Homo sapiens: one gene and its partners. Each later gene encodes a partner of the first gene's protein in a complex. Each region holds a gene or a part of one and is shown in the gene's direction. Other genes may lie near its edges.

What was found.
Region 2: MED18 (region 1) and MED1 share a complex: the UniProt entries of both Homo sapiens proteins name them as parts of the mediator complex.
Region 3: MED18 (region 1) and MED4 share a complex: the UniProt entries of both Homo sapiens proteins name them as parts of the mediator complex.
Region 4: MED18 (region 1) and MED23 share a complex: the UniProt entries of both Homo sapiens proteins name them as parts of the mediator complex.

The regions. Positions count from the first base shown.
Region 1 is NC_000001.11:28,332,026-28,336,484, forward strand, and holds the end of MED18 (mediator of RNA polymerase II transcription subunit 18), read left to right. Parts: intron 1-2,391; coding exon 2,392-2,945; 3' UTR 2,946-3,940; downstream 3,941-4,459. UniProt on the Homo sapiens protein: Component of the Mediator complex, a coactivator involved in the regulated transcription of nearly all RNA polymerase II-dependent genes.
Region 2 is NC_000017.11:39,406,247-39,413,279, reverse strand, and holds part of MED1 (mediator of RNA polymerase II transcription subunit 1), read left to right. Parts: intron 1-2,558; coding exon 2,559-5,805; 3' UTR 5,806-7,033. UniProt on the Homo sapiens protein: Component of the Mediator complex, a coactivator involved in the regulated transcription of nearly all RNA polymerase II-dependent genes.
Region 3 is NC_000013.11:48,085,088-48,092,120, reverse strand, and holds part of MED4 (mediator of RNA polymerase II transcription subunit 4), read left to right. Parts: intron 1-1,702; coding exon 1,703-1,769; intron 1,770-5,668; coding exon 5,669-5,839; intron 5,840-7,033. UniProt on the Homo sapiens protein: Component of the Mediator complex, a coactivator involved in the regulated transcription of nearly all RNA polymerase II-dependent genes.
Region 4 is NC_000006.12:131,625,214-131,633,060, reverse strand, and holds the start of MED23 (mediator of RNA polymerase II transcription subunit 23), read left to right. Parts: upstream 1-4,818; 5' UTR 4,819-5,011; coding exon 5,012-5,050; intron 5,051-5,388; coding exon 5,389-5,420; intron 5,421-5,577; coding exon 5,578-5,665; intron 5,666-7,847. UniProt on the Homo sapiens protein: Required for transcriptional activation subsequent to the assembly of the pre-initiation complex. Component of the Mediator complex, a coactivator involved in the regulated transcription of nearly all RNA polymerase II-dependent genes.

The DNA.
Region 1 (4,459 bases):
AGCCACCGCGCCCAGCCAGATTTTGTAAACAAGTATCTGAATATGTTCCTAACATTTGAGCCATAGCCATGGAGGCAGAAAGATGACTAAAAAAATGTATGTCAAGCCAGCTGTTACAGGCTTATGCCTGTAATTCCAGTTGTTTGGGAGGCTAAGGCTGCAGTACTGCTTGAGTTCGGGAATTCAGGATTAGTCTGGACAACATAGCAAGAACTCATCTCTACTAAAAAAAAAAATTAGCTGGGCATGGTGGTGCGCACCTGTAGTCTGAACCACTTGGGAGGCTGAGGCGGGAGGATCACTTGAGCCCAGGGGATGGAGGCTGCAAAGAGTTATAATCACGCCACTGCTCTATAGCCTGGAGACAGAGTGAGACCCTACCTAAAAAAAAAAAACAAAACTATGCCATAAAAATAAAGCAGGAAAGTGGCTAGAGATTGGTAGGACACATACTATTTTATTAGGGTGATCAGAAAAGGCCTTGATGATAAAGTCACTTGAGCAGAGACCTGACAAAAGTGATAGAGTAGACATGCAGATGGGAAGAACATCCTAAGCACAGAGAATAGGAGAAGGGGTGTGGCAGGAAGGTCACTCCTGGAGAGAATGATCAAGGGGAGGAATAGAAGGAGATGATGTTTGGCAGGTAGCAGAGACCATAATATGTAGGGCCTTGTTGACAACGGTAAAGATGTTGGCTTTTATTCTGAATGACACAGGAAGCCACTGTAGTGTCCTGAGTAGAGGAGTGTTATTATCTGCCCAATAATTTAATAGACCATTTGGCTTTCATATGGAGAAGAGAGGAAGAAGGCAAAGGTAGAAAGAGGCGATTGCAAAGACCAGGCAAGAAATGAGGGTGACTTCATTTGAAGGGACTAGGTTGAAGTGACCAGATGAGTGAGAAGTGATTGCATTCTGCATTTATTTCAAAAATACGGATTCAATGGAGGGTATGAGAGAAAGAAAGAGGGTGTGAGTCAAAGATGATTTTCTGGTTTTTGGCCTGGGTAACCAACTAAAAACAGAGAGTTGCCATTTACTGTGATGTTGAAGACTGTAGGGTGAATAAGATTTTGGAGGAAAAAATCAACAGTTTGATATTGAACATGTTAAGATAAAGATGTCTGTTAGGCATCCAAGTGAGGAAACTGAGTAGGAAGTTGGATGTTTTCATCTGTAGTTCAGAGATAAAAACGTGGGAGTCCTCAGGGCCTAAATGATATTTAAAGCCATGGGACCAAATAAAGTCACCTAGGCAGGAAAAGAGTATTGATACAGAAGAGGACCAGGATTGAGTCCTAGTCCTCCAGTGTTTGGGGAAGATGAGAGAGACCAAGCAAAGAAGACTTAAACGGAATGGTCAGCAAGTTAAGTGAAGACAAGAAAGTTGTGTCTCAGAGGCCAAGGGAAGAATAGATTTCATAGTGGGTATAATCTACTGTAACAATTATGTCAGATGTTGCCAAGAGGATGAAGATTCTATGAAGCAATTCACTCTCTTCTACTTACATACAGAAGAGGAAAACTTTTCCTGATAAAAAGGAAACTTTAGCCAGGTGCAGTGGCTCCATGCCTGTAATCTCAGCACTTTGGGAGGCTGAGGCAGGCGGATCACGAGGTCAAGAGATCGAGACCATCCTGGCCAACATGGTGAAACCCTGTCTCTACTAAAAATACAACAATTAGCTGGGCGTGGTGGCACACGCCTGTAGTCCCAGTTACTCAGGAGGCTGAGGCAGGAGAATCGCTTGAACCCAGGAGGTGGAGGTTGCAGTGAGCTGAGATCGCACCACTGCACTCCAGCCTGAAGACAGAGCTAGACTCCGTCTCAAAAAAAGCGGGGGAGACTTTATATTTCTTCTATAAATGGAAGACTTTGATTTGTTGGAAATAGAAGGCAATTGTTAAAATATATAACAACAAAATAGTGTTATTGGCTGGGCATGGTGGCTTGTGCCTGTAATCCCAACACTTTGGGAGACCAAGGCCAGGAGTTCAAGACCACCCTGGGCAACATAGTAAGACCCCAACTCTACAAAAATAAATAAATACATAACTAAAACAGTATTATTACATTCTAGATAGACACTGTCGCTGATTAAAGGCTCTAAGCCCCAGGCCTGCTGGAGATGAGCATTAGAAGAGGCCTAAAGACTTTGTAGTGCTAAATAAGAAAATTCCAAAAAAATTGAAAAGGAAAATAACTTTCTCACAACGTTATACAATACCTTGGTAGTGTAATTTCTGTAAAATCTCATGTTTGGCTGTATGTTTTATGAAATGCTTCACTAAACTGTTTTGGTTTTTCATTTAAGTTTTTTCAATTGTATACTAACTCCATGACCTAAAATGAAAGACAGGACTCAGTGGTGCTTTTTCCGTTTTCAGGAAGTGTTTTAGATCACAGTTTGGAAAGCCTCATCCACCGCCTTCGTGGTTTGTGTGACAACATGGAACCTGAGACTTTCCTTGACCATGAGATGGTATTCCTCCTTAAGGGCCAGCAAGCCAGCCCATTTGTTCTCAGGGCCCGACGCTCTATGGACAGGGCAGGGGCACCCTGGCATCTGCGCTACCTGGGACAGCCAGAAATGGGAGACAAGAACCGCCATGCCCTGGTGCGAAACTGCGTGGACATTGCCACATCTGAGAACCTCACCGACTTCTTGATGGAAATGGGCTTCCGCATGGACCATGAGTTTGTTGCTAAGGGACATTTGTTCCGTAAGGGCATCATGAAGATTATGGTGTACAAGATTTTCCGCATCCTGGTGCCAGGGAACACAGACAGCACTGAGGCCTTGTCACTCTCCTATCTCGTGGAATTAAGTGTGGTAGCACCCGCTGGGCAGGACATGGTCTCTGATGACATGAAGAACTTCGCAGAACAGCTAAAACCTCTGGTTCACCTAGAGAAAATAGACCCCAAGAGGCTCATGTGACTAAGAGGATCTGTCCACATTTGGGGCCTATCCTTACTTGTTTGAAAAAATATGTTTGCTTTTTTTGGTTTTTGTTTTGTTTTGTTTTTGAGACAGAGTCTCGCTTTGTTTCCCAGGCTGGAGTGCAGTGGCACGATCTCGGCTCACTGCAACCTCTGCCTCCTGGGTTCAAGCAATTCTCCCACCTCAGCCTCCTGAGTAGCTGGGATTACAGGCACATGCCACCATGCTCAGCTAATTTTTGTATTTTTAGTAGAAATGGGGATTCACCATGTTGGTCAGGCTATTCTCGAACTCCTGACCTCGTGATCCACCCACCTTGGCCTCCCAAAGTGCTGGGATTACAGGCATGAGCCACCACGCCTGGCCAAAAAAATATGTTTTAAATGTCCCATTTCACCATTGCCAGGCAGGCATTCTTCCTTCAGGGAGAGGATGGTGAGAATTAATTGGTTCTTTGCACTGTTCTCCTCATGTGGCGATTTCACTTTCATGACAGCCTTTCTATATTAAAGGCTCAGGATGTCACGGAGAATCTATCTAATCCCACTGTATTAAGAGGGGAAACCGGGCCAAGCGCAGTGGCTCACACCTCTAATCCCAGCACTTTGGGAGGCTGAGGTAGGTGGATCACCCAAGGTCAGGAGTTTGAGACCAGCCTGGCCAAATGGTGAAACCCCATCTCTACGAAAAATACAAAATTTAGCCGGGCATGGTAGCAGGCGCTTGTAATCCCAGCTACTTGGGAGGCTGAGGCTGGAGAATCGCTTGAACCCAGGAGGTGAAGGTTGCAGTGACCAGAGATGACGCCATTGCACTCCAGCCTGGGTGAGAAGAGCGAAACTCCGTCTCAAAAAAAAATAAAAATGAAGAGGGGAAACCAGAATAAATTATCTTTTGGAAAGGACAATTTCTTGTTTGGCCATTTGTGTATAAGGTTGGTAACATTAGAGGCTGTGAGCTTGTGTTACATGGTAATAAAGCCAATGAAGAGACATGTCTGTGTAATTCTGATTCTTTATTCCCTTACCCTGTAAATTTGGGGTAGATTCATTACCAGTTGAAGCAAAAAAAATGACAGTTCCTAGTTTTAATTGTGGCAGAGATGAGGATGAGAGTTTTCACCTTTCATAAAAGTAGCATATTTATTGTTGAAAACTTTTAAAATATAGTACAGATAGAAAATAACACCTATTATCCAAAGAGAAGTACTAGTTCTATTTTGGTATATATCCATCTAGTCTTTATTTTTTTATAAATTTATGTATATGAAATGTGTTTATTTTATAAAAAGATTCCATATATACTGGTTTATAACCCTTTTTTCCCATTCATCTATCATTAACATCTTTCCAGGACATTTGTCTACACTCCCCTTTTGTTAAAAAAAATTTTTTTTTTTTTTTGAGACAGAGTTTCGCTCTTGTTGCCCAGGCTGGAGTGCAGTACTGCGATGATCTCAGCTCACTGCAACCTCCACCTCCCAGGTCCAAGTGATTCTCCTGCCTCAGCTT
Region 2 (7,033 bases), on another chromosome or scaffold:
AAACAAACAAACTAACTAAATAAATAAAAATATAAAAATTAGCCAGGTGTGGTGGCAGGTGCCTATAATCCCAGCTACTCAGGAGGCTGAGGCGGGAGAATTGCTTGAACCTGGGAGGCGGAGGCTGCAGTGAGCCGAGATTGTGCCACTCCACTCCAGCCTGGTAGACAGAGCAAGATGCCATCTCAAAACAAACAAAAAGCCAACTTAATTGTTACGTGATAGTTAAGCCAGTATGCATCCCAGAACCATTAATATGTAATTTTTTGAGATTTTTCTACAGCTGGGTCTGGCAGCCTATTTTTGTAAATAAATTTTATTGGAACACTGCTGTTCATTTACATGTCTGTGGCAGATTTCTAGTTAATATTGCAGAGTAGGTGAACAGGAAACAAGACCTACAAAGCCTAACGGATTACTATATGGCCTTATAAGAAAAATTTGCGGCCGGGTGCGGGGGTCACCCCTGTAATCCTAGCACTTTGGGAGGCTGAGGCGGGTAAATCACGAGGTCAGGAGTTCAAGACCAGCCTGGCCAAGATGGTGAAACCCCATCTCTACTAAAAATACAAAAATTAGCTGGGCGTGGTGGCGGGCTTCTGTAATCCCAGCTACTTGGGAGGCTGAGGCAGAGAATTGCTTGAACCTGGGAGGCGGAAGTTGCGGTAAGCCAAGATCATGCCACTGCACTCCAGCCTGGATAACAGAGCGAGACTCTGTCTCAAAGAAAAAAAAAAAAAAAAAAAGAAAAATTTGCTGGCTGGGTGTGGTGGCTCACGCCTATAATCCCAGCACTTTGGGAGGTGGGTGGATCGCCTGAGGTCAGGAGTTCGAGACCAGCCTGACTGACATGGAGAAACCCTGTCTCTACTAAAAATACAGAATTAGCTGGGCGTGATGGCGCATGGCTGTAATCCCAGCTACTCGAGAGGCTGAGGCAGGAGAATCACTTGAACCTGGGAGGTGGAGGTTGCAGTGAGCCAAGATCGCGCCATTGCACTCCAGCCTGGGCAACAAGAGCAAAACTCCGTCTCAAAAAAAAAAAAAAAAAGAAAAAAAAATTTGCTGACATATGTTCTAGAGCAAAACGTTTGCAAACTGAGGTTTATGAATATAAATTTATCTGGAAAATAAAAAGTGCTTTGCTTTAAAATAAACAAGATTTATAACAGAAATAGCACTTTTTATAATAGTGTAGGTTTGGGATGATCTAAGTCATTAAGGTTTAGTACTTAATGGGTCAAGAGATTTTTCTTTTCTTTTTTTTTTTTTTGAGATGGAGTCTTGTACTGTCACCTGGGCTGGAGTGCCATGGCACAATCTCAGCTCACTGCAACCTCTGCTTCCCGGGTTCAAGCAATTCTGCCTCAGCCTCCCAAGTAGTTGGGATTACAGGCACCTGCCACCATGCCCAGCTAATTTTTTGTATTTTTTCTTTTTTTTAGTAGAGATGGGGTTTCACTATGTTGGCCAGGCTGGTCTCAAAACTCCTGACCCTGTGATCCACCCGCCTCGGCCTCCCAAAGTGCTGGGATTACAGGCGTGAGCCACTCTGACCGGCGGAGATTTTTCTAATGGTTCCTTAATTAAAATAAATTATGTATCCCTGTAATTACCATATGAAGCCCCCCAGAGGACGACATTTTCTTTTTTCCTTTGAAATGAAGTCTTGCACTGTCACCAAGGCTGGCGTGCAATGGGACGATCTTGGCTCGCTGCGATCTCTGCCTCCTGGGTTCAAGTGATTCTCCTGTCTACCCTTCCTGAGTAGCTGGGATTACAGCTGTGCACCGCCACGGCTGGCTAATTTTTTGTATTTTTAGTAGAGACAGGGTTTCACCCCGCTGGCCAGGCTGGTCTCAAACTCCTGACCCGAAGTGATCCACCCTCCTCGGCCTTCCAAAGTGCTGGGATTGCAGGAGTGAGCCACCGCGCCCGACCTAAGGAGGCATTTTTTTTTTTGAGACGGAGTCTCACTCTGTTGCCAAGCTGGAGTGCAGTGGTGTGATCTCAGTGCAATGCAACCTCCGCCTCCCTTGTTCAAGCAATTCTCCTGCCTCAACCTCCCGAGTAGCTGGGATTACAGGCACGCGCCACCACGCCCAGCTAATTTTTGTATTTTTAGTAGAGACGGGGTTTCACCATGTTGGCCAGGATGGTGTCGATCTCCTGACCTCATGTTCCAGCCGCCTTGGCCTCCCAAAGTGCTGGGATTACAGGCGTGAGCCACTGTGCCCGGCCCCTAAGGAGGCATTTTCTTACTGAGTTCCATTATTACCAATTTTCTTTTAGTTAAGTTTGAAATTCAATTATTTGGACTCTTGTTTATAGTTTGCTTTTGTTGTGTGATTCATAAGAGGTTGACAATTTTATGTTGGGTTAGATTTTTAGAATGTATTTACCCAAAGCTCTGGTATTTGATAGAACTATTTTTGTCTTACAGATTATTTGCCCTACCTGAAAACTGCTTACTGCAAAACTCTGATGTTATATCTAAATCTCAGGTCTCATTCAGCAGCTATTGCAATGTTAACTTTGTTTTCTTCTTTATTTTGCAGATGTATGTCCATCCCTGTGACGATGAGGGCTATTCGGAGGAAAGCTGAAACCATTCAAGCCGACACCCCAGCACTGTCCCTCATTGCAGAGACAGTTGAAGACATGGTGAAAAAGAACCTGCCCCCGGCTAGCAGCCCAGGGTATGGCATGACCACAGGCAACAACCCAATGAGTGGTACCACTACACCAACCAACACCTTTCCGGGGGGTCCCATTACCACCTTGTTTAATATGAGCATGAGCATCAAAGATCGGCATGAGTCGGTGGGCCATGGGGAGGACTTCAGCAAGGTGTCTCAGAACCCAATTCTTACCAGTTTGTTGCAAATCACAGGGAACGGGGGGTCTACCATTGGCTCGAGTCCGACCCCTCCTCATCACACGCCGCCACCTGTCTCTTCGATGGCCGGCAACACCAAGAACCACCCGATGCTCATGAACCTTCTTAAAGATAATCCTGCCCAGGATTTCTCAACCCTTTATGGAAGCAGCCCTTTAGAAAGGCAGAACTCCTCTTCCGGCTCACCCCGCATGGAAATATGCTCGGGGAGCAACAAGACCAAGAAAAAGAAGTCATCAAGATTACCACCTGAGAAACCAAAGCACCAGACTGAAGATGACTTTCAGAGGGAGCTATTTTCAATGGATGTTGACTCACAGAACCCTATCTTTGATGTCAACATGACAGCTGACACGCTGGATACGCCACACATCACTCCAGCTCCAAGCCAGTGTAGCACTCCCCCAACAACTTACCCACAACCAGTACCTCACCCCCAACCCAGTATTCAAAGGATGGTCCGACTATCCAGTTCAGACAGCATTGGCCCAGATGTAACTGACATCCTTTCAGACATTGCAGAAGAAGCTTCTAAACTTCCCAGCACTAGTGATGATTGCCCAGCCATTGGCACCCCTCTTCGAGATTCTTCAAGCTCTGGGCATTCTCAGAGTACCCTGTTTGACTCTGATGTCTTTCAAACTAACAATAATGAAAATCCATACACTGATCCAGCTGATCTTATTGCAGATGCTGCTGGAAGCCCCAGTAGTGACTCTCCTACCAATCATTTTTTTCATGATGGAGTAGATTTCAATCCTGATTTATTGAACAGCCAGAGCCAAAGTGGTTTTGGAGAAGAATATTTTGATGAAAGCAGCCAAAGTGGGGATAATGATGATTTCAAAGGATTTGCATCTCAGGCACTAAATACTTTGGGGGTGCCAATGCTTGGAGGTGATAATGGGGAGACCAAGTTTAAGGGCAATAACCAAGCCGACACAGTTGATTTCAGTATTATTTCAGTAGCCGGCAAAGCTTTAGCTCCTGCAGATCTTATGGAGCATCACAGTGGTAGTCAGGGTCCTTTACTGACCACTGGGGACTTAGGGAAAGAAAAGACTCAAAAGAGGGTAAAGGAAGGCAATGGCACCAGTAATAGTACTCTCTCGGGGCCCGGATTAGACAGCAAACCAGGGAAGCGCAGTCGGACCCCTTCTAATGATGGGAAAAGCAAAGATAAGCCTCCAAAGCGGAAGAAGGCAGACACTGAGGGAAAGTCTCCATCTCATAGTTCTTCTAACAGACCTTTTACCCCACCTACCAGTACAGGTGGATCTAAATCGCCAGGCAGTGCAGGAAGATCTCAGACTCCCCCAGGTGTTGCCACACCACCCATTCCCAAAATCACTATTCAGATTCCTAAGGGAACAGTGATGGTGGGCAAGCCTTCCTCTCACAGTCAGTATACCAGCAGTGGTTCTGTGTCTTCCTCAGGCAGCAAAAGCCACCATAGCCATTCTTCCTCCTCTTCCTCATCTGCTTCCACCTCAGGGAAGATGAAAAGCAGTAAATCAGAAGGTTCATCAAGTTCCAAGTTAAGTAGCAGTATGTATTCTAGCCAGGGGTCTTCTGGATCTAGCCAGTCCAAAAATTCATCCCAGTCTGGGGGGAAGCCAGGCTCCTCTCCCATAACCAAGCATGGACTGAGCAGTGGCTCTAGCAGCACCAAGATGAAACCTCAAGGAAAGCCATCATCACTTATGAATCCTTCTTTAAGTAAACCAAACATATCCCCTTCTCATTCAAGGCCACCTGGAGGCTCTGACAAGCTTGCCTCTCCAATGAAGCCTGTTCCTGGAACTCCTCCATCCTCTAAAGCCAAGTCCCCTATCAGTTCAGGTTCTGGTGGTTCTCATATGTCTGGAACTAGTTCAAGCTCTGGCATGAAGTCATCTTCAGGGTTAGGATCCTCAGGCTCGTTGTCCCAGAAAACTCCCCCATCATCTAATTCCTGTACGGCATCTTCCTCCTCCTTTTCCTCAAGTGGCTCTTCCATGTCATCCTCTCAGAACCAGCATGGGAGTTCTAAAGGAAAATCTCCCAGCAGAAACAAGAAGCCGTCCTTGACAGCTGTCATAGATAAACTGAAGCATGGGGTTGTCACCAGTGGCCCTGGGGGTGAAGACCCACTGGACGGCCAGATGGGGGTGAGCACAAATTCTTCCAGCCATCCTATGTCCTCCAAACATAACATGTCAGGAGGAGAGTTTCAGGGCAAGCGTGAGAAAAGTGATAAAGACAAATCAAAGGTTTCCACCTCCGGGAGTTCAGTGGATTCTTCTAAGAAGACCTCAGAGTCAAAAAATGTGGGGAGCACAGGTGTGGCAAAAATTATCATCAGTAAGCATGATGGAGGCTCCCCTAGCATTAAAGCCAAAGTGACTTTGCAGAAACCTGGGGAAAGTAGTGGAGAAGGGCTTAGGCCTCAAATGGCTTCTTCTAAAAACTATGGCTCTCCACTCATCAGTGGTTCCACTCCAAAGCATGAGCGTGGCTCTCCCAGCCATAGTAAGTCACCAGCATATACCCCCCAGAATCTGGACAGTGAAAGTGAGTCAGGCTCCTCCATAGCAGAGAAATCTTATCAGAATAGTCCCAGCTCAGACGATGGTATCCGACCACTTCCAGAATACAGCACAGAGAAACATAAGAAGCACAAAAAGGAAAAGAAGAAAGTAAAAGACAAAGATAGGGACCGAGACCGGGACAAAGACCGAGACAAGAAAAAATCTCATAGCATCAAGCCAGAGAGTTGGTCCAAATCACCCATCTCTTCAGACCAGTCCTTGTCTATGACAAGTAACACAATCTTATCTGCAGACAGACCCTCAAGGCTCAGCCCAGACTTTATGATTGGGGAGGAAGATGATGATCTTATGGATGTGGCCCTGATTGGGAATTAGGAACCTTATTTCCTAAAAGAAACAGGGCCAGAGGAAAAAAAACTATTGATAAGTTTATAGGCAAACCACCATAAGGGGTGAGTCAGACAGGTCTGATTTGGTTAAGAATCCTAAATGGCATGGCTTTGACATCAAGCTGGGTGAATTAGAAAGGCATATCCAGACCCTATTAAAGAAACCACAGGGTTTGATTCTGGTTACCAGGAAGTCTTCTTTGTTCCTGTGCCAGAAAGAAAGTTAAAATACTTGCTTAAGAAAGGGAGGGGGGTGGGAGGGGTGTAGGGAGAGGGAAGGGAGGGAAACAGTTTTGTGGGAAATATTCATATATATTTTCTTCTCCCTTTTTCCATTTTTAGGCCATGTTTTAAACTCATTTTAGTGCATGTATATGAAGGGCTGGGCAGAAAATGAAAAAGCAATACATTCCTTGATGCATTTGCATGAAGGTTGTTCAACTTTGTTTGAGGTAGTTGTCCGTTTGAGTCATGGGCAAATGAAGGACTTTGGTCATTTTGGACACTTAAGTAATGTTTGGTGTCTGTTTCTTAGGAGTGACTGGGGGAGGGAAGATTATTTTAGCTATTTATTTGTAATATTTTAACCCTTTATCTGTTTGTTTTTATACAGTGTTTCGTTCTAAATCTATGAGGTTTAGGGTTCAAAATGATGGAAGGCCGAAGAGCAAGGCTTATATGGTGGTAGGGAGCTTATAGCTTGTGCTAATACTGTAGCATCAAGCCCAAGCAAATTAGTCAGAGCCCGCCTTTAGAGTTAAATATAATAGAAAAACCAAAATGATATTTTTATTTTAGGAGGGTTTAAATAGGGTTCAGAGATCATAGGAATATTAGGAGTTACCTCTCTGTGGAGGTATTGACTTGTAATCTCATTTTCCTTTCAAAAAAAAAAAAAAAAGCTAAGGTGGCTTGTTGGGATGTAAACATGTTTTCAGATGCAGTAAGGTTTAGTGTAGGACAGCCTTCCTGACCCAGTGGCATGAAAACCATTACAGGATTAATAGTTCTCCTACTTCCACAATGTGCCAAAAGTCTGCATCCCAGCATTTTGTTTGCAGGAGAACTGATGCCATTCCTAAGAGCTGGACTCACTGTTTCTCTTCATCACAAGGAGAAGGAGTCCAAACTTTAATCACTCCACTGTATGCTCCCTGAGATAAAACAGTAAAAAATCCGCAGCCATAGTTCACTTAAAACAATTTCAAGCTCAC
Region 3 (7,033 bases), on another chromosome or scaffold:
AATAAAAAATAAAAAAAGAATGAAACACTAATCTTTACCATAACTATAAGGCCCTACGTAATCTCACCCCTAGCCACCTGGCTGCTACATCCTCACTTTGCTTTCCTCTCCCCATTGTGCCAGGCCCTGGCTACACCTCCTCAGCTCCATCTTTGGGGCACTGAACTGTCTGTGTCTTCTACTGTGCTCTTTCCTTCCAGACATCTTGGCTGACTTCTCTCATTTAATCCGTGTCTTATGTCAAAGCTGTGCCCTTAGGAAGACCTTCTCTGACCACCCTATTGAAGTAGCCAACCCACTCCCCCAGTAGTCTCTAATAAAACATTGCTTTATTTCCTTCCCAACCCTTATCACTCTAGGTTTATTTCTTCTCTTAGTTCTTCTTGTCTCTTGTATTAGAATTTAAGTGCCATTGTTCACTTTGATACCCCAAGTATCTAGAAAGTGCCTGGCACATGATAGGCACTCAATAAATATTTGATGAATTAGTGAATAAATGAAGACTTTGCATTCTTATATCTACTTTTTTCATTCATTGATTAATTCATAAATAATGGTATGGGGAAGTAGTAGTGGGAAGGGTTGGGTCTAATTGACATGATCCAGAAAAATGATATGATGCTAGCTGGAAGGAAGGTGGAAATTTGAAGGTAAAAATAGCCTGGTAGCCAGTGAGAAAGTACAAATGCTCAGGCTGATCAGAGCAGTGTCAGGTAGCTAGTTGTGAAGCTGCCCCTTCTGCATAATTTCTCAAAAGTCCCATCTATCAACAAGTTTGAAACTAATATATAAACATTACCTGCTATACATTTTTCCCAATCTTATTTTGCTCATCAGATACTAATTTTCATACAGGGAAATTGTCATATTTATTAAATGAGCATTCTAAAAGGATATCATTTTATTATGTGTAAGGATCCCTCTTAGTTGATGTTTAATTTAAAAAATTCAAATAAAGTGGAGAATCATTAAAAAATGGTCCATGCATCCCTTAATTGTTTTATTTTACCTTAAAATATATAAACATATGTTCATTCACTAATCATGTTATGTAAGACAGGAGTCAGAAAACTTTTTCTGCAAAGGCCAGATAATAAATACTTTTGGGTTTATGGGCCATATAGTCTCTGCTGTAACAACTCAACTCTGCCTCTGTATTTAGGGAAAACTGCCATAGACAATTTGTATATTAATGGGCAGACTGTCTTAGGAAAATGTTATTTACAAAAACTGCAGAAGTGCTGGATTTGGCCTGTAGACCCCTGATGTATGAGTTTTTCTTGCATAAATCGCTCATAATGCATTGTCTGCAATTTGTAGTTTGATTTCTAGATCAAATCAAAATGAGAACTTATCCTCTTATCAAGCAGTCTTAGGGCAGACCCTTAGTTTTTATGACTTTTCCCTGGTCCTTTCTTTATAGCTGTCCTTTGCAAGCCTCTGTAGAGTCTTTCCAAGCATTAGGCTTAGGTTTTTATAGAAAGAACTCTCTCTATTCACAATAGTCTTTCATTGGCATTTAGGTGATAGCTATTTATATAATGATAGTATTAAGTAGAACTTTTATAAATAAGTTTGGTAACCGGCACAAGCGAGTCTTGGTGAGCTGTAGTTCACAGTCAATAGCGGACTGTAGGGAGTAGCCCTGAGTGTTCAGTATGCTGTGAAAGGGTTTTTGTTGTTGTTGGTTTTTTTTTTTTAGGGAACTTATAGAAATGCTGGCAATTTCAAGAAACCAAAAGTTGTTACAGGCTGGAGAGGAAAACCAGGTAAGTGGCTTCTTTTTAAATTAGTTAATTTCTCTTTGTTTTTTAATTAAAAGAAAAAAACTTGATTTCTGCAAGTTTCCTCTTTATATTTACTTTGTGTGGGAACAGGAATGTTGGATCCTTTTAAGTTATTAATTAAAACTTTAATATTGGTATTTTCTTTGTATCATTTACTTAAGATAACAGTGCGCTTAAGAAGAATAGTTGCCTGAGGGTTTAGCAGTATTTTGTTATTTTCTCTTACAATTCTAGTCACACTTACATGTTTATTTATTTTTGTCCTTTGAATTAACCAAGAAAGGCTTGTTGTATGGAGATTACAACAATATTTAGAATCAAAAGTTAATGCTCAAAAACTTACCGTGTATTGTAAGTATAGTTCCCTAATGCAACTTGAACATGCAGGGAAATAAAAGAGCATACAACTCTTATTAGACATTGCCTTATAGGGGTGAAAGTACGGGCAGTTTTTATTTGCTCACTTTTCGGTGCTTTCTAATTTTCCATGGTGGGTGAACAGACTTTTTTTCCTGATTCAGAATTTTTTTAGAGGTAAGAGGATAAATTTTATATTATGTTTTTGGCACAGTTTTTTCTTTTTTGAGACAAGTTCTCGCTCTGTAGCCCAGGCTAGAGTGCAGTGGCATGATGACTGCTCACTGCAGCCTCAACCTGCTGGACTGAAGCGATCTCCCACTTATCCTCACCAGTATCTGGGACTATAGGCATGCGCTATAATGCCTTGCTAATTTAAAAGAAATTTTTTTTTTTGGTAGAGACATAGTCTCACTGTGTAGCCCAGGTCAGTCTTGAACTGTCTTGAACTCCTGTCCTCAAGGGATCCTCCCCACCTTGGCCTACCAAAGTGCTGGGACTATAGGCATGAGCCACCATAGCTGGCCAAAAAAAATGTTTAAGAGAAAATGAATGGAGAGGATTAACCTTTCTAAAGATGATGTAAAGGAGAAGAGGAGACAGTAATAAATCTTTTGTCTGCATCATTACCTTAGTTCTGTCTTACGTTTTGAGGGCAGGGAAATCTGACGGACTCAATAGAAAAGTGTCAGTGAGCCTCAAAAGGGGAGGAGGGGATCCAGATGAGGCCACAAGCTAGGAGAAACAGCTAACCTTAGGGGTAGTAAGGTTTTTGTTTTGTTTTTTTTCAAAAAAGAAAGAGGCTAGAGATAAATATGTTAATAGAAGACTACTAGTCTCTCAGGTACTCTGTTAATACCCGTGGGATTAAATAGGAATTTATACAAAGTATGCAAGAAGTAAAATGCAAGGCTTGACTTTATTTGATAGACACTTATTAAATGCTTGCTATGAGCCAGGCACACAGATTATTCAGAAGGTGATAATTAAGACCTATAATCAGCACTGATCTTTCTTGCACTTTTTAAAGAGTAGCAATTTGTGAATTGTGTCTTAGTACTGTGGATTCCTATGTAATTTTCATTGAAACTGTTACTATTAGAGAGGGATGTGCCCATTTGAAAATTTTCTAGCCACCATTTTATTTGGATATTTATAATTTTATATAGAATTTTAGAATTAGAAAGGATCTTAACGATGTTCAGTTCAACCTCCTGTGAGAATAAGCTCCAGGGTGGACGGATGAGGTAGAGGTTAATGGTGAGTGGAACCAGAACCTAGGTCTTCTGACTTTAGTTGAATAATTTTTTTCTACTGAACAATAAGATCTAAAGAGAATATTTTTTACTCATGGGTAGTATACAAATTAATTCAACCTGTGTAAACTTCTTGAAAGTTGTCAGGGAACTACTGTGTACTACTTGCTTTAATAATACAGCTTTTATAGAAATGGAAACCTAGCTTTCTCCTACGATGTGGGAGGAATGAGGATTAGAAGTCTGTTAAATAAATAGAATATACTTTACTTTTTACAGAAAAAGCTTTCTGTTGTTATTTAAAATACTCTTAATATTTGGCAGTTTGTAGCTCAGTCTTTTGTCTATTGTATTAGAAGAATTCCTATAAAATGAGAAGAACTTCATGTCAAAAGGATCTTGAAGAGGCATACCTGTACTTTTTAGTCTTCAACAAATCTTTTTAAATAGTTTTAAAATTGATTCTGAATTTTGATAGATATTTTCTTTCTGAAGTAGTATTCTCTACTTAGCACAGTAAAGGATATTTAGACTAGACTTGCATCTTAATTCTGTACTGGGGTAGTGATCGTAATAACTAGCCTTTGCTGAACTCTTCCTGTATGTACTTAAAGTGCAATATATCATGAATCCTCACAATAGCTTCATGTAATGGCTACTATTAATATTATATTCCTTTTCCTATTAAGAACACAGGCTCAGAGAGGCTGGTAACTTTCCCTGTGTCACACAGCTAGCAGATGGAGGACTAGAGATATGAACCACCAGACTTTCTATTTTATGTGTTTTAGCCTTCATGGTTTTTGCCGTATCTGCATACCACTTGTTTGTTTACTGTTTTATGAAATCACTGTATTTTTTTTTTTTTCCTGAGACGAAGTCTTGCTCTGTCACCCAGGCTGGAGTGCAGTGGCGTGATCTGGGTTCACAGCAACCTCCGCCTCCTGGGTTCAAGCAATTCTTCTGCCTCAGCCTCCTGAGTAGCTGGGATTACAGGCATGTGCCACCACCCCCGGCTAATTTTTATATTTTTAGTAGAGACGAAGTTTCACCATGTTGGTTAGGCTGGTCTCAAACTCCTGACCTTGTGATCCGCCTACCTCGGCCTCCCAAAGTGCTGGGATTACAGGCATGAGCCACTGCGCCTGGCCGAAATCACCGTATTTTTAAGATCATCTTCATTGTAAACAATACTGTGCATAAACTCAGAGTTTCAGTGTCTCAGTTTTTTCTAATATATATTAGCACAAATGTGTAAGTGTAAAAGTTTTCTTAAGTTCTTGGTGCCACCTAAAATCATCTCAAATACCAAATTTTGGGAGAACTTTCATTATTTATATATACATATATATATTTGCGATGGAGTTTCGCTCTTGTTGCCCCGGCTGGAGTGCAATGGCGCGATCTCAGCTCACCGCAGCCTCTGCCTCCGGGTTCAAGCGATTCTCCTTCCTCAGCCTCCTGAGTACCTGGGATTATAGGCATGCACCACCACGCCCAGCTAATTTTGTATTTTCAGTAGAGATGGGGTTTCTCCATGTTGGTCAGGCTGGTCTCGAACTTTTGACCTCTGGTGATTCGCCTGCCTCGGCCTCCCAAAGTGCTAGGATTACAGGCGTGAGCCACCGCGCCTGGCCTATATTGTATTTTTAAGGATAAACTTTTTTTTTTTTTTGAGACAGTGTCTTACTCTGTCACCCAGGCTAGAGTGCAGTGGCGTGATCTTGGCTCACTGCAACCTCCACCTCCCAGGCTCATGCAATTCTCCTGCCTCAGCCTGCTGAGTAACTGGGATTTTAGGCGCCACCACACCCAACTAATTTTTGTATTTTTAGTAGAGATGGGGTTTCACCATGTTGGCCAGGCCAGTCTAGAACTCGTGACCTCAAGTGATCTGCCCGCATCAGCCTCCCAAAGTTCTGGGATTACAGGCATGAGTCACTGTGCCCAGCCATAAGGATAAACTTTAAAATCGTGTCTTCCCTAGGAAATCACTAAACTTGCTCATGTTGCCATATTGCTAGTTCTGAAAGGCTAGTTTTATTTTGTTTTGTATGAAAGAATATCTGAAAAAGTAGAAAAGTTTGATATTAATGTTTCCCAAAATAATCATAGGTAGGCTCTTTTTATTCTTAACAAGAATTAGGAATAAAATTTTGAAGGTGTTGAAATTTATAGCCTAGCCAATTCAGTTACGGATTCTTTGTTTCATTGGAATGCAGCCTTTCAGTAGTCTATTGTCTGATTTAATTGACTGTTATCTGACAGGTCCTGGAGTTGTTAATTCACCGAGATGGGGAATTTCAAGAACTAATGAAATTGGCACTTAATCAGGGAAAAATTCATCATGAAATGCAAGTTTTAGAAAAAGAAGTAGAGAAGAGAGACAGTGATATTCAGCAGCTACAAAAACAGCTAAAGGAAGCAGAACAAATACTGGTAAGTTGACAGAGGTTGGTTCTTAAGGTTAAAAAGGATGTTGTTTAATCTGTTTCTGAAAAATCTGTTATCAATATTTTGAAGAGCAGAAAACTAGACTTTCCAAGTCTAAAGGTGATATCTTGTCACTCACCATTGCCAGTGGTTAAATGAAAGGCTATTGTCATTCTCTTTTTTACTTACTGTTTTCAAATAGTCTGCATTACTTGTGAGCCACATTTTCGATGCTTAAAGATTTTACAGTATTGAATTATAGAAATGGAAAGTTTTACTTTTATCCTGGTCTGATATAAATTTTAATTATCAGTAGTCTAAATCTCTCTTTTTTTTTTTTTGGTCTCTGATCCTTAGCATAAAAATCAGGGAAATTTTTCATTTTTTATATATTTTGAAATCAATAAAAATATATACACATTTTATAAATTGATTAAAATTGACATTAATTTAGTCATTCATCCTCATCTAGGTAGGATTTGGACATAGATCAAGGATCCTAGTTTTCCCTTTGCTGTTCTTGGCTACTATTTCAAAGAGGCAACTTATTTGCTATTATTTGCCCAGTTACTTCACTAAATACTAACTAATATAACATGATAGTATTGCAGAAATAGCTGAGCTTGATTCTCATGTCGACCAGACATTGCTGGCATCCTTACCACTGATTAATCTCTTAACAAATGTATTAAAATGAGCTCCAGTAACTAGAAGCCTGGGCAGTTCAGGGTAAATTAATCACCTCTACTAAGGAAACAACTCACTAGTAAATAGTTTTTAAAAATATATTAAAATCAGGCCGGGCATGGTGGCTAATGCCTGTAATCCCAGGGCTTTGGGAGGCCAACGCAGGTGGATCGCGAGGTCAGTCTGTGATTGAGACCAGTCTCAGTTCGAGACCAGTCTGGCCAACATAGTGAAACCCTGTCTCTATTACAAATACAAAAAATTAGCCAGGTGTGGTGGTGTGTGCCTGTAATTCCAGCTACTCAGGAGACTGAGGCAGGAGAATCGCGTGAACCTGGGAGGCATAGGTTGCAGTGAGCTGAGATTGCGCTATTGTATTCCAGCCCAGGCAACAGTGCAAGACTCTCAAAAAAAAAAAAAAAAAAAAAAATTAGCTGGGCACAGTGGCTCACACTTGTAATCCCAGCACTTTGGGAAGCCAAAGTGGGCAGATCACCTGAGGTCGGGAGTACA
Region 4 (7,847 bases), on another chromosome or scaffold:
CCAACATACTACTGACTCTTACTCTGTATCTTTACTAAGTGATTCCTTATGTTCTACACTGCCAGAATTTCACTTCTCTCTTCCTTCATCCTCATCCCTCATCCCTTTTCTCTTTTTTTAATTAAAAAAATTGTGGGTACATAGTGAGTATATCCCTATCCCCTTTCAACCCTGAAAAACACACAAAAAAATCCTAGGTGGGGAAGTCAGGGGGCCTCTGATAAAGGCTTAGCTTGTAAGTGACTGTCTGTGTTACAAATTAAGTGATTCTGGACATTGAATTCTTCATTTTTAAGAATTATCAGAGATTATTAGATTATCTCTAAGTCACTAAATTTTGGATATGATAATAGGGACACATCCTAGTCCTTCAGGTCCTAAGATGAATAAACCTCAAGGAATCTACCTATGTATAATACAAGTAGGTATAGTGAAGATGGTTGGCATTGCCAAGTTGCTAGCCATATTTTTGGCTATAACAATTTCTCTAACTGAACTCTAAACCCCAACCTCTTTTGAGTCTTTCAAGTTCTAGAAACTTATTCCTGGCTGGATGCAGTGGCTCACACCTGTAATCCCAGCACTTTGGGAGGCTGAGGCAGGAGGATCACTTATGTCAGTTTAAGACCCACCAGGGCAACATAGTGAGACCCTGTCTCTACAAAAAATGAAAAATAAAAAATTATCCAGGAGTTATGGTGCATGCCTGTAGTCCTAGCTACTCGGGAGGCTGAGGTGGGAGAATATGGGGAGGATTGCTTGAGCCCAGGAGTTTGGGGCTGTAGTGAGCTATGATGGCACCACTGCATTCCAGCATGAGCAGCAGAGTAAGACCATCATCTCAAAAAAGAAAGAAAAAAAGAAAGAAAGAAACTTAACAGTTCACCTGATCAATAGACACAAGCCAAAACCACACCTTCCATGCAAGTTAGACTTTGGAATAGACTGCCTGTGTCACTTAAATCTGAACCTACACTTTCTAAGTTAACTGGACCTTGAAAGTTTGCCTATTCTTTTCTTCTTTAACTTTAGAACAATCTGTACCTTCTCTTCTTTTCTTCTTCAACTTCAGAACAACCTGTACCTTCTTGGTTCTGAAACTTTACTCTGAACATTAAAATGTTCAGAGTAATTTGTAAGTAAGTTAATGGCTTAGAACGCTTGCATTCTGAGAGGCAGCTACCATTACATCACCCATCAATGTAAACCGTAAACATTCCTCATGTTACAGAAGGTCTCAGTGTCCACAGAATTCTGGCAACAAATGGGTTGTTGTTGTCTCAGAAAAGCCCTAGGGGCCTGCCAACATCAACTTCTTTGTCTCAGGAACCTGCCCTTCCTGGTTCCAGTGCTAGATCTTGGGTGATAGGTGGACAAGCTAGACTGGGAGAGCCCAGAGAAACTAATCGCACTGAGGAGGGTGGTAGAGGTGAGGCGGATGCTAGGCTCAGGTCCAACAGCAAAAGGAAGAAGGAGTCCACAAAGGAAGGGAGACCTCACATAATAACATAATGCCAGAGATAGATGGGCAGGTGACTAACTTCAGGGAGGGCCAGTCATGAGGAAAAAGCAGAAAAACCTACAAGGAGATTGACAAGCACACAAAGCAATCAGAAAGCTAACCAGGTAGGCAGTTGGTATAGGAAGGACAGAAGCTAATCCTCAGCAAGTGGAGATCCAACACTGAAGCTGAATTGAGAACTGGCTGTCTTGGTGAGACTGATGTCAGCAGTGCCAAACCAGGTCTGAGAGGCAATGGTACACACCAGGAGACAAAGCAGACACCCAGCATGGAATAGAGAGCCCAGCTCTAGTCCTCCAAACAATGACTATGGCAAAGTAGAATCAATGGTCACAGTTTGATACCGCTGTTTGCCAGTACCTATGTGTGTGAAAAGATATTTTCTGACTAAATAAGTAAAAATCTCATTACTGATCAGCACAATGAACATCTATAATCAATTTGGAGATGAGAAACCTGATGTGATGACTCCTGTGGTGTAGCAATTGTTTTCTACTGAACGATCAGCATTCCTAAGGTTGTCTCTGGTTCATGGAAGACTGTTTCTCTTACTTTGTCTCAAGTACAGAAATATTCCCTAGTAGTGTTAGATTTCTAGGAGCCCTTTCTTGTTCATTTTGAAACTCAGAAATCTTTGGATTTCCAAACATTTTCCAGGTTTTCATAGGCTCTTCTCATTTTTAGTGTACTCATGAGGGCCTCATTTATGACTCAAATTCTAGAGATGTCTCCAGAAGAGACATTATAAAACAACCATGCTGCCTGGGCTCTCCGAGGTAGAGCTCAGTGTCACAGTGCTCCCACGGTGCCCATCCATGAAGCAGAAGGTACAGGCCACGTACTGTTTACATCTCTGAAACCTGGCATGAACCAAGTTATTTCCCCAAACCTTTAAACTCCTCTCTGCCGTGTCAACTCCGTGGTGGCAGGAACTAGGTCAGTTTGAGCTTACAGTCTTGTTCTAGTGTCTAGCACAGTGGCCAACACCTAGAAGACATTCAATGAACACTTGCTGAATAAATTTTGTAACGGTTTCAGAAATAACATTAGAAGTATAAGCTACCACATACATAAATGTCCAGTGAACCCAACTGTTATAAATTATAATAACTTTACTAGGTATAACTTTGTAGGTGTTCCAAATCTTTCTCTACATCCAGCATTCCAGAAATAGCTATTACCTCAGAGGAAGTCTTGTCCATAAAATAAAGGCACTTCAGATGTTTTTATTCTACCCAAAGTAATGAATAATGACTGAGCACCACCAAGTACCAGACTTTATGCCAGGTGTTAGGAAATGCAGGCATGTTTAATTTCTGTATCTACTCTAAAGAGCTTTAGTCTAGTTGAAGAAGTAGACATTTTAAACCATAATATAGTGTAATCTGTGCAATACTAGTAGTGCTAATAAAGTGCCAGGAGGAAAGAGGAAGAAATACAAATTTTTCTACAGAAAGGGATTTAGAAAGATATCTACGTGAGTTTGCTCAGACTGCTGTGAATAGCATACTATAAACTGGGGTGATTCGAGTCTCAGCAAACTGAACGCTGAGAACTCAGGCTTCTTGTTCCTTTTGGCTGCAAGAAGGTTGGCAGCCAGTCAGAACTTTACCCACTTGTAAGAGATCAGGCTTCTTGTTCCTTTTGGCTGCAAGAAGGTTGGCAGCCAGTCAGAACTTTACCCACTTGTAAGAGATTAGATGTATCTTCCTTGGTGATTCAGACCAGCCTAAGGGGAAAGACCTGATGATACCAACTTTGGGGATTCTCCAAGAAACAATGTCCCCAGAACACACTATAAAGATGCTCAAAGTTGATAAGCCCTGCCCAGCTGCTCAGAGTTTCCAGTTGGCTCTTTAGTCCCCCACTCTAAATCCTGATAGGACAAGGATGGAACAAGAAGCCTGAATTCTCAGCTTTCAGTTTGCTCAGACTCAAATTACCCCCCAGTTTATAGTATGCTGTTCACAGCAATCTAAGCAAACTCCCCTAGGTATCTTTCTAAATTCCTTTCTGTAGAAAAATTTGTATTTCCTCCTTTTCTCCCTGGCACTTTATTAGCATCACTAGTATTGCACATATCACACTCTATTATGGTTTAAAATGTCTATGTCTTCAACTAAGCTAAAGCTCTTTAGAGTAGATACATGGGCCCTAACCTGACTGATGTCCTTCTAGGAAGAGAAAATTACGACACAGACATGTACAAAGGGAAGACCATGTGAAGACACAAGGAGAAGAAGGTCATCTACAAGCCAAGGACAGAGGCCTCTATAGAAACTAACCCTATCAACCTCAACCTCAGACTTCCAGCCTCCAGAATTACAAGAAAAGAAATTTCTGTTGTTTAAGCCACCCAGTCTGTGGTATTTTGTTATGGCAACCCTAGCAAACAATACCCTAAGCCTAACTTTTCAAGTTTTTCTCCAGCAGGAAATCTGAATTATTTCTTTTCAGCTTTTAGTAGCTATTGTGTGGACAACATGGTTGCATGTGCATATTAAAGTTGTTAGAAAACTAAATTTATGCCAGGTCAGACACTTGTATAACAAAACCATGAATGGGGAGTCATCAGCTCATCACTTAGCAGCTACAAAGGAGTAGTTCATGCTTAGCAGTTTGTGGCATTTCACAACCGTCAAAGAAGTGAAAGGCCTTTGGATGTCTATGACTCTCATCAACAATTTTCTTTATGAGGCAAAGAAAGCTGATCATTCAAGACATAACAGATGTTTTAGGGGTTGGTGATGATGGTGGCATATGAAGAAAAACACATACTCTCAACAATATAATAGCAAATAGAATCTAGCAATATATTAAAAAGGATAATATATTATGACCAAGTAGCATTTATACCATAGAAGCAAAATTGGTTTGGCATTCAAAAGTCAATCAATTACATTTGCACTGAGGTTATCATAGCTGAGAAGACACCGTCTCTGTGGCTTCAGCTCCTGGCTGCAGGCCGCTGATGGAGGTCCAGAAGGTCAGCTGCTCACAGACATCAACTTGGTGTCGGCTGCGGCTCCAGCATTTTCCGCAGGCTGCAGCTTCTGGGTTCCAAACTTTTCATTTCTCAGTCTGCAAGCGGGTTAGCCCCGAACAGGAAGCAACTCCTTCTCCAGCCGGGAGGTGGCGGCCTGCGGTCGACGATGCCTCCGGGGTCCTTGGGCTCAAGGTTCCGTTTGGGGGCGCTCTCGTCCGGCTTGCGGGCCGCCCTTCTCCACAGACGGAACCTTCTGGTGGCGCCGCTGGTTTCTGCGGGGTTTGCAAACGGCGCGTACCGGGCCCTTCCCGTCTTCCGTACAGGTTCCTGCTGTTGGCTGGGCTCGGGAGGGAACGCTCCAGGTAAAGCGCTGGGGGAGGAAGCGACGCCGAGGAGCTACGGTTTCCTCCAGAGGTCTCCGCCCCTCTGCCCCTATATTCCCAGAGCTCGAGTCTGATCCGGGCCTTGCCGGGCACCCTGGAAAGGCGGGGGTGATAGTACAGATGGAGACGCAACTGCAGAGCATTTTCGAAGAGGTGGTGGTGAGTGCAGCTGCCGGCCATCCAGGACTACGGCTTGGGGACGGGGAGACGCGGGGGCAGCCGACCAAGGAAACTGGCCTGGGCAACCTCCTCTCACGCCTCCCTTTTTATTCCCTTGTTTTGACACCGAGGTTGTATGCGGGGAAGTTTAGTGATTCTCAAACTGCTGTCAAGTTCATTGTATCCTTTGAAATCGATACAGTGACAGGCCAGACAGGTATTGATAGTTTCAGAGCTGATTAAGGTGACTTGCCCTGTGTTACATTGTAATACTTGGCTAAGGGAGGCGCCTTTTTAAAATTAACATTGTTTACATTTTGTTTTTTTTTTTTTTACAGAAAACGGAAGTTATAGAAGAGGCTTTTCCTGGGTGAGTGTATGCGTGGCAGAGTTTTGTGTTTTTATGTGATTGTGTCTGTCAGATTTTACTTAGTTTCGTGTTGGAAGGTTATAAGATCCACTATTCTGATTGTGTGTAATTACCTTTTTAAAACGAATGACAAATAATGTAATTTTTATTTTTTTAGCATGTTTATGGATACTCCTGAAGATGAGAAAACAAAACTAATTAGCTGTTTGGGGGCCTTCAGACAGTTTTGGGGTGGTCTTTCTCAGGTGAGCGCTTCATTTTTAATACATTCAGCTGATGATTTTTGGCCTCTTCTTTTTTTTTTTTTTTTTCTTTTAACATTTACTTTCATGCTGCTCTTAAGATCTTCCTGAGAAGGGAGAAATAAAATTGTTATCATTTTTTATTCTGGCTTCCATTTGTTTTAATTTGTATATTTCAGTGGAAAACCTGTGTTGAGAAGTCAAGTTGATACTGCACAGTGTGAGATGTTTAAAAAAAAAAACCTCCCCTATGTTAGATTAATTGAGATCATTTTCATCCTATTCGGATTTATTTGGTACACTTGAAAACAGATATGTTAAGCTTTACTTGTCAAGGATACAAATTCCATTTTTCTGCTAAATAAAGGAATTGGCACAGCATTGATACAAAGATGCTACAATAGGAATACCAAGATTCTATAATAAGGATAGGAAAATATTATAGTAAAAATGAGGAGACAAACTGTAAAAGTAACAAAGAACAGCTACCAGAAAATGTATCCGTGAAAAAGACAAAAATGTGTCATCCTCGAAGAGCTCACATTGCAGTAGTGCCTTACCTTCTCATGGTACACTATAGGTAGGGAAATGAGAACTGTTTGCGTGTCAGCCACTGGTGATAAGATTTGCCACTCAGACATGGATCATATAATGCCAATACAGTCATGTTTTAACCTTTTTGTTTAGTTGTTTTCTAATAGGTAATACATTTATATGGTTCAAAATGCACAGGTATAAAAGGGTGGATCCAATAACTAGTCTCTTTCTCTTCTCTTACCTGTTATTTTTTCTGTCTGTAGCCAATATCCTCAGGTTATGTTTTCTTCTAGAAGTATTTTATGCATATAGAAACACTTTTATAGCATGATCATATACCATGTACACTGTTCATTAATTAGCACTTTTTTTCTCCTAATAATAATCTACAGGTAATTCCCTATCAGTCCAAGCGTTACTTGTTCCTTCCTTTCTTACTTTTTTTTTTAAATAGCAGCATAATATTCCATTGTATGGCTGTACCTTCCTCCTTTTAACCAATCTTCTACTGTCTTCTAAGTTTCTTCTTACTTTTTCTAATTTAACCAATGCTGTGATGAATAATATTATGCATGAAAAATAGGATAAATTCCTAGAAATAGTATTGCTGAGTCAAAAGCCTTATCAGTTTGTAATTTTTATAGAAATTATTAAATTTTCCATAAGGGTTATACTAGTTTATGCTTCCACCAGCAGTGTTTGAGATTATCTTTTTCTTTTCTTTTTTTTTTTTTTTTTTGGAGACAGAGTCTCACTCTGTCGCCCAGGCTAGAGTGCAGTGGCGTGATCTTGGCTCACTGCAACCTCTGCCTCTCGGGTTCACGCCGTTCTCCTGCCTCAGCCTCCCGAGTAGCTGGGACTACAGGCACCTGCTATCACGCCCGGCTCATTTTTTGTATTTTTAGTAGAGACGGGGTTTCATCGTGTTAGCCAGGTTGGTCTCGATCTCCCGACCTCATGATCTGCCCACCTCGGCCTCCCAAAGTGCTGGGATTACAGGCATGAGCCACCGCGCCCGGCTGAGAGTATCTTTTTCTTATAACCTCACAATAGAGTGTTAAGCTTTTTGATCTTTGCCAATCAAAAACATGAGAAATTTTATCTCAGTATAATTTTATTTTGCATTTCTCTCAGTGATGTTGAATATCTTTCCAAAATTTAAAAAAAAATTCATTAAACACTTTATGAATTATGATGTGGCCCTCTAATGGAGAGACCAGGAAGAAAATAGGTATTTCCAAATCATTGTTATATGTGCCACAATAGAAGTATGTATGAGAACAGTGGTTGTGGAGAGAAGCAGAACATTATAGGCTCTTTTTGGAGATAATCCTAGAAGACAAACTTTGATACGGGCACAACATTTTGACATCGTATTTAAAGTTTTGCCAGTCTAGAAATGTGACATGTCATTGGATTCATAATGGGCTCTTGTTTGGGATCTTAGGGATTGGATTCACACCTAATTCTCCTAAGCCTGATACATACTGATCCATAATGAATTTTACCCCCAGTGACAGTAATATTTATATATGCCATAAAGGGCACTGTTTACAATGCCTTACAACAATCTGTGTTAAGAGTTTTCTATTGACCGTTAATATGTTAACTAATTAATTACTACTTTTGAAGTTCCCATGTAATAAAA